Linked DNA regions of Homo sapiens. The protein of the gene in region 2 purifies or fractionates together with the protein of the main gene of each other region. This does not show direct contact. Each region holds a gene or a part of one and is shown on either strand. Other genes may lie near its edges.

Region 1 (7,879 bases), on a different chromosome or scaffold from region 2:
TTGTATTTTTAGTAGAGATGGGGTTCCTCCATGTTGGTCAGGCTGGTCTTGAACTCCTGACCTCAGGTCATCCGCCTGCCTTGGCCTCTGAAAGTGCTGGGATTACAGGCGTGAGCCACCGCGCCCGGCCTTACCACACTGTTCTTAAGACAGATGATAATAAAGTCACTTGACAGAAAAACTGGGTGCAAAATGTGTGGCTTTGATTTACAGGCTGACTGAAATTAAAGCTTTCTTTCTGAACTTAAACCTCAAAGCTACAGGTAATTTTTTTTTTTTTTTTTGAGAAAGAGTTTTGCTCTTATTGCCCAGACTGGACAGCAATGGCGTGATCTCGGCTCACCGCAACCTCCGCCTCCCGGGTTCAAGCAATTCTCCTGCCTCAGCCACCCAAGTAGCTGGGATTATAGGCATGCGCCACCACGCCCGGCTAATTCTGTACTTTTAGTAGAGACAGGGTTTCTCCATGTTGGCCAGTCTGGTCTCGAACTCCCGACCTCTGCCTGCTTCGGCCTCTCAAAGTGCTGGGATTACAAGCGTGAGCCACCATGCCTGGCACAGCTATAGGTAATTTAAACAAAATAGGTGAAAAAATTTCTAGCTATAAAATGGACACAATTTAGTCTTAAAACTCAAACAGAATATTGAAACATTTACAAATAGAAAAAAGCTCAATGCATTCTACAGAACAAAAATGTCCAGTCTTTTCCTATATAGTTAAAGCCAGTGATCCCATTTTTATTAATATCTGCTAAAACCCATGTAGCAGTTTGTAGATGTAGTTATTTACTCAGGAATCCTAAGACACAAAAAATAAACTAAATTTTAAGCAGCTGTTTCAAAAAAGACTATACACACATAAAATAGGATTACACACTTTAATCTGATTGACACTGAGGAAGTAGGGAGGACATGAAAGAAATTTAGTTTTAGCTCTGCTTTATGCATAACCAGATGCTCCTTTTCTAAAAAGTATATTGAGGTTTTAAAAAACACATTTATCAGAATACTTCAGGAAACCATACTATGTGTAATCCAGGAAATACACTATTTGCAGAATAGGAAAATCATCACTGGCAACAAAAGATTAAAACAAAAATAAAGCACCAGGGTTCTGAGCAGTTCTAAGGTGAGTATATCAGCAGAAATAGTGTAAATGCTCTTGACTGGTTGCTATGCAAACATGCTAATGAGGACTAGTCCATGTCTTATAATTTTTTTTTTTAACATGTTTCTTTGGAAAAATGGCAATATTGAGTGGAAGAGAAGCTGTCCTTTTAGACACCCAGCTTATTGGCCTGGGTGAGAACAACTTTGAGAACTGGCATGAAAGCAGAGGTCTCACTGAAGTTGCTGGTGCTAACTATGTGGGTATGCATGGTCAATCCTTCTGAGTAGTTTCGAGTTTCAATGCTCCTTGCAATGTTGTGTAAACCACTGGTGATTGTTGGTGAAAGCTGAAACAAAAGTGAACCAAGAGAAAGAATTAAATTAAGGGATAACTTCCCATGAGATCCTCCATAAACATTAAACCCAGATATTTAAGTGGAATTTGAAACAAACATTATAAAAATATATAAACCATTTAGCATTTCTAGAAAGTTTCTTGAACCAAGCAACAGTTATCAAGTACAACCACAACAAAATGATTTACATAAATAAGTTATTTATGAATTATACATGTATAAGCCAGGTATTTTCTTACAGAAAAGCAGCCCGATTTCCTCTCCAAACTGAAATGCTAATTTCTCTCTCCACTTAAGAGAGCTTCAGACCTTTAAAAAATTCTCCTATGCACAAAAAGGAGATTAAAGATTCTTAATCATAATATCTCAAAGGAAGGGCCCAAATTTACTAATTCTTACCTGCTTTTTATAATCCTGTCATCTCTTAAAACTATAAAACCTGTAGTTTTTTACTATGTCATTACTTGGCATAGGTGTCCATACTTTACAGAAGACTTTATTTGGATTTTTTTTTTTTGAGATGGAGTCTCACTCTGTCACCCAGGCTGGAGTACAGTGGTGCGATCTCGACTCACTGCAACCTCCGCCTCCCGGGTTCAAGCGATTCTCCTGCCTCAGCCTCCTGAGTAGCTAGGACTACAGCCGTGTGCCACCATGCCCAGCTAATTTTTGTATTTTTAGTAGAGACGGGGTTTTGCCATGTTGGCCAGGCTGGTCTCAAACTCCTGACCTCAGGTGATCTGCCCGCCTCAGCCTCCCAAAGTGCTGGGATTACAGGCGTGAGCCACCATGCCTGGCCTATTTTGATCTCATTTTTAAAAAATGTTTTAATATATACTCATCTAGATGTATACGCTAATTGTATCTTCTGTTTTTTTTTTTTTTTTTTGGAAATGCGGTCTTGCTATGTTGCCCAGGCTGGTCTCAAACTCCTGGGCTCCAGTGATCCTCCCGCATCAGCCTCCTCAGTAGCTGGGATTACAGGCATATCCCACTGTGCCCACCGAGAAGACTTTATTTTGGATCAGTCCAAGGACCACACTACTTCCACTGTTATATCAACTTTCTTTAGTTTGGTTCTCATGAGAGAAATGGTTATTTTCATCTGATGGAACTGAGTGTGGGGAATGGGTTAGAGGAATGCTGAAATGGAAAAAATAAAAAGAAAGTCCCACTTCTTTTTTTCTTCTCCTTTCCTAGTGCTTTCATTAATAAAACAAGACAATTTTAGAAAAGAATGGTGAGGTGGGGACAAGAGAACAAACGTAGTGAACTGACTTCTTACTCCTGGCTATCTTCATAGTTACAGCACATTACCCTATTCATCTTGTGGCTACATTTGGCTTTGCTTTTGTATAATGGCTATCCTAAAAGAAAAGGGTCAAGAGTCTTAGACTATGATAAAGATTATAGATTTAGTCCCTGGAAAACAGAGTATCTGCATACTCTTTGATTTCTTGTAACTGGGCCATATAAAAGGAACAGCAGAAGGTCAGCTACCTTATGGCCAACACAGGCCAGTTTGTATTTATACTCTTGTTATGAGAGGGTTAAAATGTCTCTCTCAACACACCCACACAAACACACACACACACACCCGTATCCCCTTAACCCCAGTGAGTGGAATTTATGATTCAACACAGCCATGCCCATTCTCTAAATGTCATGACAATTTTGCCCCCATGCATACTAAATGGGAGTGCTGATAAGACAACTGTTTTACTAGCAACTAGGAATAAATGATTATCATAAATCCTTTTCCTCCAAAACTTACTGTCTGTTCCCTAAGTTTATCATACAGAAACTCCAAACGTTTGCTGGCATCATCTAGCTTCCTCTTGGTTTGCTGCAGGAAAGAAAAAATAGATGTTATATTTGAACATTAACTTTTAACCTAAGAACTTGCCCTATCTCATTGCACTAAACCTTATACTTAAAATGTTGAATGGCTTCATTTTATAAAGAAATGGAGGCAACTACAACTAAGAAACTTGAACAGATTATGGCCGGGCGTGGTGGCTCACGCCTGTAATCCCAGCACTTTGGGAGACCAAGGCAGGCAAATCATGAGGTCAGGAGTTTGAGACCAGCCTGGTCAACATGGTGAAACCCTGTCTCTACTAAAAATACAAAAAATTTGCTGGGCGTAGTGGCAGGCGCCTGTAATCCCAGCTAGTCGGAAGGCTGAGGCAGGAGAATTGCTTGAACCCAGGAGGTGGAGGTTGCAGTGAGCCGAGATCACGCCACTGCACTCCAGGCCCAGGCGACAGTGCAAGACTCCGTCTCAAAAAAAAAAAAAAAAAAAAAAGAAACTTGAACAGATTATTAGAACAGAGATCAATCATCTATCAAGGGTGGAGGGTGGAGGGGACTGGGATGAGGAGAGGATGAGACTTACTTCCAGTGCATGAAAGAGTACTGATTGGATTTCATATGAACTGCAAACTCACTTGATAAGGTATATATGCATGTTTGCTTGCACTATATTCACAAGCATCAGGAGGCAGCAATGGGTCAGTGTATCACAAAAAAGAAGGTCTAAGTAGTTATTGTCGATTATGGGTGGTAGAAGGCAAACATATAGGTGAACTGTGGAATCTTGTTTTAACCTTTCAAAAATACTACTTAAACACTTAGTTACATTTGTTTAATCCTGCCTTTTTCTAAGCCTTTAAAGCACCAAGAAAGAAAGAAAACTATCTTTTGGCAGCTTAAGATTACTGAGGGAAGTAGTAAAATAAATTATTAAATTAAAAAGCTTTTTTTTCTCTCTACCATAGCACTGTAAAGTATAATCAAAGAAACTATTCTAAAACTAAAACTAACAGTTTTAAAATTACATGATTAACTTAATGTTCTACATTATACCACAGCCTTATGTTAGTTCAATATTTATTGGCTGCTTACTATGTGCTGTACCAGGGACAAAGTCTTGTATGTCATGTAGCTCATATCCCACTGGGTGAGAAAAGATACTAAATGAACAATATATTGCATGTCAGATGGTGATAACTGCTATGAAGAAAAGTTAATAGAGGAAGGGGGCTAAACATGTTGGGAGTTGGGGGTAATAAAGAAAGGCCTGATGGCTAATGGGACATGTGAGCAGAGGCCTTGAACTTGGGAGGAAACAAACAATGCAGATATGTGGAGGAAGAGTTCCAGGCAGAAGGAGCAGCAAGTATAAAGTCCTGACGCTGAAATGCTCTTGGTGTGTTCAAGGAAGGAATGCCAGTGTGCTTGGAGAAGAGAGAGAAGAGACAGGCCATCAAGGATGCTACATACCAAGTTGTGTGGCAAAATTACTTTGTGCTGTTTAGACATAAAGTGAAAATAAGATACATCCATGCTATAAAAACTATTCCAACTACTGATTAAAATGAACTTTTGCGGAAAGGAAACCTTACAATCCTTGCTCAAAGTTAACCTGGCCAGGTGCGGTGGCTCATGCCTGTAATCCCAGCACTTTGAGAGGCCGAGGTGGGCGGATCACCTGATGTTGGGAGTTCGAGACCAGCCTGACCAACATGGAGAAACCCTGTCTCTTCTAAAAATACAAAATTAGCCGGGCGTGGTGGCACATGCCTGTAATTCCAGCTACTAGGGAGGCTGAGGCAGGAGAATCTCTTGAACCTGGGAGGCGGAGGTTGCAGTGAGCCGAGATTGCACCATTGCACTCCAGCCTGGGCAACAAGAGTGAAACTCCGTCTCAAAAAAAAAGAAAAACAAAGTTAACCTTATCTAGCTACAAACAGGAGCCCTACCCCAAGGGGGCAAGGGCAGCCGGACAGGCAGGATATTAGAACTTCTTCCCCAACTAATTACAGAAATTATAGGAACACTTTGTCTTTTATGGTTCTCTACTACCCAGAGCTCCTCGGTATCCAAGAGGAATATAGTATGATGACCGAGAGAAGGGTAAATTAACAAAAAATGTATTGAGTTGGGCCATGTATTACGTGTCTTCCCAACCTCTCTATACTGACTCACGCCTGAAGAATTGGTGTGTTGTCATTCTTATTCAGATGCTTCCATTTTTGAATGACTACAGCCTGTCTATTTAGAAGTGTGCATAAGGGCTAGCATGTATCTGGTTATCAGCTTCGTCTGCTCTCTTGTTTCCACCTTGGTCTTCCCATCACTCCCAGAATGTCAGGCACTAAGGTTTATGTTAACTGCTTTCCTGATACTTTCAGTACAGAGAATGGCTTTCCACAAAGCCACTGACCAGCAGAAGGCTGCACATATTAATACTCAATGTCTGATGAACAATAAGATCTAGAAGATGTTTTTTCATGCAGACAAGTAGCCGATGATTAAAAATATTCAATGTGTGCTAGCAGAAAATGAAATTTCACTTAAGACTGGCTTTGTGGAATGTTTGTTGTTGCAATACAGGGGTATCTTAAGTAAACTAAGTAAAATCAGTTGCTTTAAATGTAAATATGCCTCCGATATCTAAAACATTTAACTATCTTTAACATCTCTGCAAAGCTTTAGAAGATGATCTATCTACTTTTAACAATTTCAATATAAGCTCAGAAAGAAATCCCAAATCTGAGTTTCTTGCATAGCACCATTATGCTCCATTTATGTGCCAAATACAGTTTTGTTGATGAGAGGCAGTATAGCTTGGTGGTTGAGAGCATGAATTCTGGAGCCAGACAGTCTGGGTTTGAATGCTGGCTCTGACCTTAAGTGTTACTTAACTGCTCTCTGCCTTACTTTTCTTGTCTGTAAAATAAAAATGACAAATCTATCTGCCATAGGTTATTGTGAAGATTAAGTACATTTATATATAAAAAGCAATTAAATATATTTCTATATGTAATGCAAACTATGTAAGTGCTAGCTTTATTACTTTTGTACAAATTTTTAGAAATATACCTTGTAGGACTTCAAACAATAATTATAGAAGAACTCCATAAAGAATTCTTTTATTTTATTATATTTTATTTATTTTGAGACGGAGTCTCTGTCACCCAGGCTGGAGTGCAATGGCGCGATCTCGGCTCATTGCAACCTCTGCCTTCTGGGTTCAAGCAATTCTCCTGCCTTAGCCTCTCGAGTAGCTGGGACTACAGGTGTATTCCACCACACACAGCTAATTTTTTGTATTTGTAGTAGAGACGGGGTTTTGCTATGTTGGCCAGGATGGTCTTGAACTCCTGGCTTCAAATGATCCACCTACCTCGGCCTCCCAAAGTGCTGGGATTACACGCATAAGCCACCACACCTGGCCAAGGATTCTTCTAATTAAGCAAAATATGATTTAAAAAAATAAATACATACAGGGTCTGTTGCTGAAGAAAGGCAGCGCTGAATAAGATCCTCAAATGTGGTCTTTAGAATGAGGTGCTCATCTGGAATAGGTTTCTTGGTAATTTTTTTTGTTGGCAAAGACTGCACATGCTGGAAGAAACACACCAAAAACTGATCAGAAATGACCAGAAGCTACCTTATATACACAATCTTGAATCTATGTGATAAACAGAAACCGACAACCTTGTACATAGACCTATTCAAAATCAAATTAAAATTTAATGTGTGAAATCACTTACGATAAGTAAAAATAAAAACCAGATATCTAGTACAAAGTGTAGGCGCTCTTCCTACAGTTTGGATTTTCATATGCAGGACTGGATACAAAGTAGTTGATTAATTTAGGTAACATATGTTGGTCAATATTGTTTATAACTGATGGGAAATAAGTATGTGCCAGCAGAGAATAAAAACAAGGCACTGGAAAACACACTCGGCTGGTTAGAATGGCTGCTTGCTCTGCCTATTGGCTCATTTACGTGTATGCTGGCATTCTTCTATTCTTTGTTTTACTCTTAGAGGTTGTTAACTGGGCTGTGATCAAAACTGCAAGATTAAGCCAAAGATTAAGAGAGAAGACATCCCGATGCTGCTGAGTATACAGATGAAAGAACAAAGAAGAAATGTTTAAGTTAAGTTTTATTAGTTCATTCTTTCACTCATTCAAAAAATATTAGGCAACTATTTACCAGGAACTGGCTACGTACTACTGGTGAGCCAATACAGAAATGATCTCAGTTCTCAGGGAGTTTACAGGTTAATGGAAGAGGCACAGTTTAAAAACATCACCAATGTACATAAAATAGCAACTGCAGTACGTTAACACGTAGTGGAAACAAAAGATGCTATAACTGAGATTTGACTGAAGGGAAGGGAAGGCTCTCTCAGGAAATTTTACTGGAAGGACAAAATGGAGTTGAACAGTTAAGTGAGGAAAAAAGAGCATTCCAGACGAAAGGAATAACATGTAGAAAGGAAGGATCACGGTAAAAGGGAGCTAAAAGGCCAGTATAGCTGGAGCAGAGAGAACAAGGAGTATGAACTGAGGCCTCCCAGACAATGTTGACTATTTTGGTCCTTATACTGAGAAC
Region 2 (7,879 bases):
CTGAGGCAGGAGAATCAATTGAACCCAGCAGATAGAGGTTACAGTGAGCTGAGATTGTGCCACTGCACTCCAGCTTGGGTGACAGCGATACTCTGTCTAAAAAAATAAAAAATAAAGGCCGCAGGCCAAATTTGGCCTGTGGACCAAAGTTTGCTGAGTTCTGCACTAGAGGTTTGTGGGAGTAGTATCCACCTGTGCCTGTGAAACTACCAATGTCTCAGGCCCTCGGAGGCTGTGCTAACATCCTGTCTCCTAACTGTGGAGAGACCCAACCTCTGTATGGGTCAGAGTCTGGCCTTCTGAAACCATTCCCTCGTTCCCATCATTGCAGAGTCAGATCCAAGCTCTTCAGAGTGGCATTCAAGGCCCTCCAAAACCTGGCCTCTCCCTGCCTGTCCTGCTTGAACCAACAGGACAGCGTTTCCACACGGGTTCCTTGGAACATTGCTTCTGTTAGATGTAGCACCTGTCAGGGTTCTGAGTGGAAACCACAGAAACCAACTCCAGCTAAATTAAGCAGAAAAGGAGTTTATTGGCTAGATACTGGGAAGTTCAGAGAATTCATGGGAAGGCTAGAAGTTTGGAAAATGGCAGGAGAGAGGAAGCTATGTGGCTCAGGCATAGCTAAGGCCTTGTCACACGGACCAACTAATTATTTTGGGTGGGCTGCGGGGAGCTGCCATTCACTCAGCAGGTATTTATTGAGTACCCTCTGTATGCAAAGCTGTTCTAGCCTCTAAGGATACAGCAATGAACAAAAAGGATATGAACTTCTGCCTTCTGAGGCTTAAATTATAATGGGAGAGACATAATAATTAGCAAAATATAGAGTATGTTAGATGGTGATAAGAGGAAAGGAGAAACATGAAGCAGGAAAGGATAGGGAGTGTGTCGGCAGGGGTGGGGCTGTGCAGTGTTGGATATGGTGGCAGGGAGGGTCTCATAGCCAGGGGCCAGGTTCTGTGGAGCCTTAGAATAACTGGTGTTGCTGAGGGTGAAATGAGAAGCTATTGGTGGGTTTTGAAAAGAGGGGTGACATGACGTAATCTCGATGGGTTTTTTTTCTTTCATTTTTTTAGTTTGCAAAATTTCAAATATTCAAAAAAGAGGAAAAAAACAGGTCAATACCATTCACCTAAATTCACCAATTGTTACCATTTTGCCACATTTGCTTTTACCTTTCTCTGGCTCTTGTTCTTTATCTACACACACACACACTTTTTTTTTCTGAACCACATGAAAATAAGTTCCAGACATCCTGACACTTATCTCTAAATCCTTCAGCACATATCTCCTGAGAATAAGGACATTCTCCTACACAACCATGATACCATCATACCTAAGAAAATGAAAAATCATGCCATCATCTAATATGCAAACTGTGTTCACAATTTTTTCTCAATTGTCCACATTTATCTTTTATAGGTTGGTTTTTAAAAAATTAATTCAGTGTCCAGTCAGGGTTCATGCATCTTTAGTCTTTTAATATACAGTGTCCTCCTACCTTTTATTGTGTGTGTGTTTTTATGACATTGACTTTTTTTTTTTTTCAAGATAGAGTCTGGCTCTATTGGCCAGGCTGGAGTGCAGTGGTGCAATCTCGGCCCACTGCAACCTCTGCCTCCCAGGTTCAAGTGATTCTTGTGCCTCAGCCTCCCGAGTAGCTGGGATTACAGGCACATGCCACCATGCCCAGCTACTTTGTGTATTTTTAGTAGAGACAGGGTTTCACCATGTTTTCCAGGCTGGTCTTGAACTCCTGACCTCAAGTGATCTGCCCGCCTTGGCCTCCCAAAGTGTTGGGGTTACAGGCGTGAGCCACCATGCCTAGCCATGACATTGACTTTTTAATGAGACTCAACTAGGGCTTCGCTGCTCCTCAGGGAAGTCTTCCTTGAACCCTGAAGCACTGGGTGAGCCTGTGCTTTACCCTATCACAACTGACGTTCCTGCTTTGTGTTCTACTCCTAGTGAGTTATCTTAGAGTAGCTACTGTCCCTTGCTCCCCTGTGTCCTTATCACATGGCCCTGTGCCTTGCACATATTACTTGTTCAGGGAGTATCATGTCAATAATGAAGTCTGATGTTCACTCAGGTACTAATCAGAGTGATTTCAGTCATCAGTGTGCTGGATACTGGGAGATTCAGCAGTGATCAAGGCAGACACAGTCCTGCCCTCCTGGAGCTTACAGTCTAGTGGCAAAATAGGCATTAAACAAGCAATTAATGGATGGATGGCAGTTAGGATTGGAGTACTGGGTAGGACTTCAGATCTGACAGGTTCTCCCTGTGAGCAGCCCTGACTTATTCCTGTGAACCCTCTGGGCTTCCAGACTTGGGGTGCAAGGGGTGTTCATGGGTGTGGCCACTCTTGCAGGGAGTACCCCACTTGGCTGCTACAAGAAGCTGATTGAATACTATAAGAATGGGGACCTGTCCTTTAAATATGTGAAGACCTTCAACATGGATGAGTACGTGGGTGAGTCTTTCTCTTTCAAGGTTCTTTCCTGATTCTAGGAGAGTGATGCTCCTCCTCTCATTGGCCCAGTCCTGGAGAGGAATCGGGGAGCCAGTGACATTTGATGATAGGCTCAATTATCAATACTTACCTCTTGGTTTACTCAGCTATAAAATGGGGCTAATAAAGCTGACCTCACAGGTTGTAAGCATTAAATTCATTTAATCCTTTTATGATAAAAGATGTGGAAGTTTCTTATACATAACAAATACTTAATAAATATTAGAGTATCTCCTTCTCCTCTGCCTGCTCCTCAACTCCATTCCATTTCTTTCTGGAACAAATGATTGCAAGTGGGATCCTGGCTCGGGTGTTTCCCCTAGGATCTGTGTCTGTGCTTTCTCTTCTGTGTGTGGCCTCCAGCTCCCCTTTCTGCCAGGTACACTTGAAGGGGACCTGAGATTGGTATCCTTCCTGCTGCTGAAAGACTATACCTTGGTCTTCTATCACCTCTCCCTCACCCAGTCCTTTTGTAATAGCTTCATTTTAAACATCCTTTTTTTAAAAAAAAAATTGTGGTAAAATACATGTAACATGACATTTACCATCTTAACCACCTTTCTGTGTATAGTTCAGTAGTGTTAAGTGCATTCACATTGTTGTGCAACCAATTTCCAGAACTCTTTTCATCTTGTAAGACTCAGGCTCTATACCCGTGAAACAACAACTTCTCATTTCCCACTTCACCAGCCACGGAAACCACCATTTTACTGTCTGTTTCTATGAATTTGACTACTCTAGAATCAAACTAGAGTATATAACTGGAATCATAAAGTATTTGTCTTTTTGACTGGCTTCTTACACCTAGCATAAAGTCCACAAGGTTCATCCATTGTTGTAGTGTGTGTCAAAATTTCCTTCCTTTTTAAGGCTGATTTTACATATTCTTAATGCTTAACATTAAACATTATTTTTTTTTCCTGGCCAAAAAAAAAAAAGTTGATCTGGGGAAGCCCTAAGATAGTTCTCTCTAACCACCTGGTGTTCAAGCTGGGATTTATTCAGGCTGAGTGGGGTAGAACTGGGAGTGGATGGTGGGTTGAGAGGCACAGGGTGAGGGGTGTGCTTGCTTGCTTTCTAAGATGAGTTCAGCCCTACCCCAGGTGGCCAGAGTGTCCCCAGCCTCTAACCTATGGTCATTGCCTTATGAAAAGCAGATCAGATCAGAATGTGGGGATTTCCCAGGCCCTTGGTGTGCAGTTACTCTGGCCAAGCCCTGTGGCCACAGATGGTGGTACTGGGTGGGTGGACACTTATGGATACTGGCTCAGCCTGTGCCGAGTGGCTAGGGGTCAGAGGGCTGGTGCCTAAGGCTCCCAGATGGGCAGACCCCTGGGAGTGTCTCTGTAGGTCAGCATGGTGTCCTGGCATCCTTCTTAGGAGAGGGGCTTTGGCTTGGCCTAGGCATAACCGAGTGTCTCACGGCCCCACAGGCCTTCCTCGAGACCACCCGGAGAGTTACCACTCCTTCATGTGGAACAACTTCTTCAAGCACATTGACATCCACCCAGAAAACACCCACATTCTGGATGGGAATGCAGTCGACCTACAGGCAGAATGTGATGCCTTTGAAGAGAAGATCAAGGCTGCAGGTGGGATCGAGCTATTTGTTGGAGGTGAGCTTGACACTCTGCAGCACACATGTCCAGGGCCAGACCCGTGGGAAGGAGGACAAGACACAATGCCTGTCTGCAGACAGCTTCTTCTGGGTGTGCTAGTGACCGTAGAGACAGAGGCGGGAGAAATGGGCCCTGCCTGGCTCTGTTACTCAGGAACTATGTTATCTTGGAGATCTCTTTCTGCAGTTTGATGCCTTGTCTGTAAACTGAGAGGTTTGGGTTTGGACTCTGAGATTCTGTCTACTCCCCAGTCTTAAGGTTTTATGGATCAGTCCTGGAACTTATCTAAACATTTAACATCATGGACTCATGTAGTTCCGGAAGGCTCCACACAGCCCCTGTAGATAGCCAGTTGAACCCCAGAGAAGTTAGGTGACTCACTCAAGGTTCACAGGTGGGAGCAAGTGTGTGCTTCTTGGATTTGTGCTCGGGTCCTCTGGGCTGCCCTTCTGTGTATCCATCTATCGCCACCTCTGGAGTTACCCATGAGGGGTAACATTGAACTGCCTTTTATTGCTCTAGAGATCACTCTTCTATACTTCAAGGTGGGGAGGAGGGGGGCAGGACCTCTCATCCTCTGAGATTTTAGAACCTTGGCAGCCCCTGTCCAGGTTCTCTGGGTGTTTTGTTCACTGCACCTCTATCCCAGCAGCAGGACCCTCTAACTACAGGCAGAAGAGACAGAGAAGGTCCACTTTTCTGACAATCTGGGGAGGCAGAAGCTGTTTGGAGTGTTTCCTCCTCAGCTTTTTGAGGGTGATAGCAAGTTAACAATGTCTGTGTGTGCCTCAGATAGACATGATGGGGAGGGTCTCCTCTGAGACAGTATGGCAAAGAGAAAGAAATGGTAGGGAGGGGGACAGATCACATGTTTAAGGTGTACCTGCCCAGGGCTGCAAATGAGAAAGGTGACACAGCTTTCAATGATTTTTCTTCAGACCCTAGTTAGGGAAGGAGAGATTGTCCATTCTTGAAATCTTGGATCCCTGGGACTGACAGGGCTGCACGGGCTCTCTCCCTATAGGCATCGGCCCTGATGGACACATTGCCTTCAACGAGCCAGGCTCCAGTCTGGTGTCCAGGACCCGTGTGAAGACGCTGGCCATGGATACCATCCTGGCCAATGCTAGGTTCTTCGATGGAGAACTCACCAAGGTGCCCACCATGGCCTTGACGGTGGGGGTGGGCACTGTCATGGATGCTAGAGAGGTAAGGGCATAAGGGCCCCACCAGCTTGCGCTGGTGGACTTGTCTTTCTCTTGTTAATCTTAACTATACTGGTACCACCTACATTCTTATTAAAGATGAAGGCATGGTAAATAAGGCTAAAATCCCTGCTGACCCTGTTACTCACTGTTCCTCTTGCGTCTTTGGAAGACATCATTATTCCCAGTGTGAGGTGAATCCCTTGAGCACGTTTTTGGTGCCTTTGGCTGACTGCCTGAGACAGCAGGCTCTCTGGCCTCAGGCCCCTTTCATGCTTTTCACAGGCAGAGAGGAGGCCAGCATCGCTAATGTTGGAATATTTGTACCTGACCAGGTATGGAGAGAGGGGTTCCCTTGTTCCTTGTAGTTGGTAGAGGTCACTGTTGGGACACCAAGGATGCTTGTGCTTCTAGCCCCGTGCTCAGAGATTAATAAATGTGGTGAAGTATGATTAAAATATAAGTGTTTTAAACTGAATTTAGCTTTTCCCCTAAAAAATTGGCTATCATTTGAATGTGAATTTTTTGTGGTTCCAATTTCCTTATTTTCATTAGAACTTTAGAAGCATTTTCTCTTCCTTTCTGACGTGTATAGACATGTTAGATTTACATTTCTTTGCCCAAGCCAATAAACAAGCATCTAAATCAGTGAAAACTTCCCTGTTTAAAGTGAACTTTTGTGAAATGAGTGATGGCACCCAGATTTCTGTTGGGTAATCTTCAATCAGTACGTGGGGTGGGGGTGTTTACTCGCTGTTTTTAGCTCTGCAGCTTGGAAACAGGTTTAGGGCCGTCTTTATCATGAGGGCATCTTGATCTGGGAAAGGACCTGGGGCTGGAAATCAGGAAATTATCTTTTCTAAAGAGTTCTGGGTTGCTGAGGGGTCCGGAAGAAATAGTCACATTCCCTCTCTGCTTCTGCATTCTAATCTTTTAAGAAAGGAACAGTAAATCCTGTTCACAACTCTGTGGCACATGTGAATTAAAATGAAAGGAAATCTACAGAACTGAGTTTTTTTCTCTTTTCCTGCCCTTGAATAGAGCTGAGTTCTTTAAGATCACTTACATTCTCGATATTTTAACTGTTAAGTGGAGACTGTGCCTTTGTTTTATTATATATTAACAAAAACCATCACCCCAAGTCACATTAGTTCATAGGTTTAATGCTGTGAACTGAAAGTGACCAGATAATGGGGCAACCTTTCTGGGATTCAGCCTTAGAGGCCCCACAGATAACTCCCACCATTGCTTGCAAAGTGCCCTTGCTGGTGGTGCAGGTTGGGAGCCCTCTTTCACAAACTGTGCTTGTGTAGAGTCACCCAGCTGATGGGATAGCAGGCCTGGGCATGGCATGTCTGTTTACAGGGCACCTTCATAGTCATCATCAAAGATACCTGGAGGCACTGTCACGTGGTAGTCAAGAACATGAACTTTGGGGTCATAAATGACCCTGGGCAAGTTATTTAACCCCCTGGGGCTCTGTTTTCTTATAAGATGGAGATAATGATGCTGCCTGCCTCGGGTTATTTGTGTGATAAAGCACAGGGAGCACTGAGCAAAAGTATGTTGCATGGTAACCACTTACAATGTGATATGAAAAACAATCATCCTTACAACTGTTTAGGGTGTCTGGAATGCTCCCCTCCATCACAGACTTGTTTTCTGATCCCCAGGTGATGATCCTTATCACAGGTGCTCACAAGGCATTTGCTCTGTACAAGGCCATCGAGGAGGGAGTGAACCACATGTGGACCGTGTCTGCCTTCCAGCAGCATCCCCGCACCGTGTTTGTGTGTGACGAGGATGCCACCTTGGAGCTGAAAGTGAAGACTGTCAAGTATTTCAAAGGTGAGGGAGGTGTGGGTCCAGGAGGAGGTGGTCAAGCTTAGGGTGTGCTAGGAGTAAGGAGTAGATCCAGCTTTCATCCTCTGGTCATTTTAATTGACAACTGTAATCTTAAGAAATATCAAACCCAACTGCATCACACTACACAGTCATTTCTCTTCTGCCTGTGACTGCAAAGATCCATTTCTGGAGATCTGTTTGCTCTGAGGAGGAGGAAAGAAAACGCAATGTGGTCCAAGGACTATGTGGTGACCTCACAGTGCCATTAAGCCTCAGGTTTTCTCTTTTCAAATCTTAAACAAGCGATTCCTTTCTTTTATTTACTTTCTTTCTTTTTGAGACAGGGTCTCACTCTGTCGCTCAGGCTGGAGTGCAGTGGTGTGATCTCAGCTCACTGCAACCTCCACCTCCCGGGCTTAAGTGATTCTCCTTGCCTCAGTCTCCCAAGTAGCTGGGATTACAGGTGCCCGCCACTATACCCAGTTAATTTTTGTATTTTTAGTAGAGGCGGGGTTTTGCCATGTTGCCTAGGCTGGTCTCAAACTCCTGACCTCAGGTGATCCACCCACCTCGGCCTCCCAAAGTGCTAGGATCATAGGTGTGAGCCACGATGCCCAGCCCTTCTTTTACTTTAAAAGGATGCACACTGCTTTAGGCAAACATGTGAAAATCCTCTTTTACTCAAGTAGGTC

What was found. Proteins that work in one complex are often made in the same cells at the same time.
Region 1: the proteins of GNPDA1 (region 2) and SEC31A purify together in Homo sapiens (affinity purification with mass spectrometry; 2 studies listed by BioGRID and IntAct, with this or other methods). This does not show direct contact.

Annotation. Positions count from the first base shown.
Region 1 is NC_000004.12:82,817,797-82,825,675, forward strand, and holds the end of SEC31A (protein transport protein Sec31A), read right to left. Parts: intron 6,879-7,879; coding exon 6,759-6,878; intron 3,313-6,758; coding exon 3,241-3,312; intron 1,458-3,240; coding exon 1,278-1,457; 3' UTR 713-1,277; downstream 1-712. UniProt on the Homo sapiens protein: Component of the coat protein complex II (COPII) which promotes the formation of transport vesicles from the endoplasmic reticulum (ER).
Region 2 is NC_000005.10:142,002,399-142,010,277, reverse strand, and holds part of GNPDA1 (glucosamine-6-phosphate deaminase 1), read left to right. Parts: intron 1-2,377; coding exon 2,378-2,479; intron 2,480-3,951; coding exon 3,952-4,134; intron 4,135-5,161; coding exon 5,162-5,346; intron 5,347-7,015; coding exon 7,016-7,190; intron 7,191-7,879. UniProt on the Homo sapiens protein: Catalyzes the reversible conversion of alpha-D-glucosamine 6-phosphate (GlcN-6P) into beta-D-fructose 6-phosphate (Fru-6P) and ammonium ion, a regulatory reaction step in de novo uridine diphosphate-N-acetyl-alpha-D-glucosamine (UDP-GlcNAc) biosynthesis via hexosamine pathway.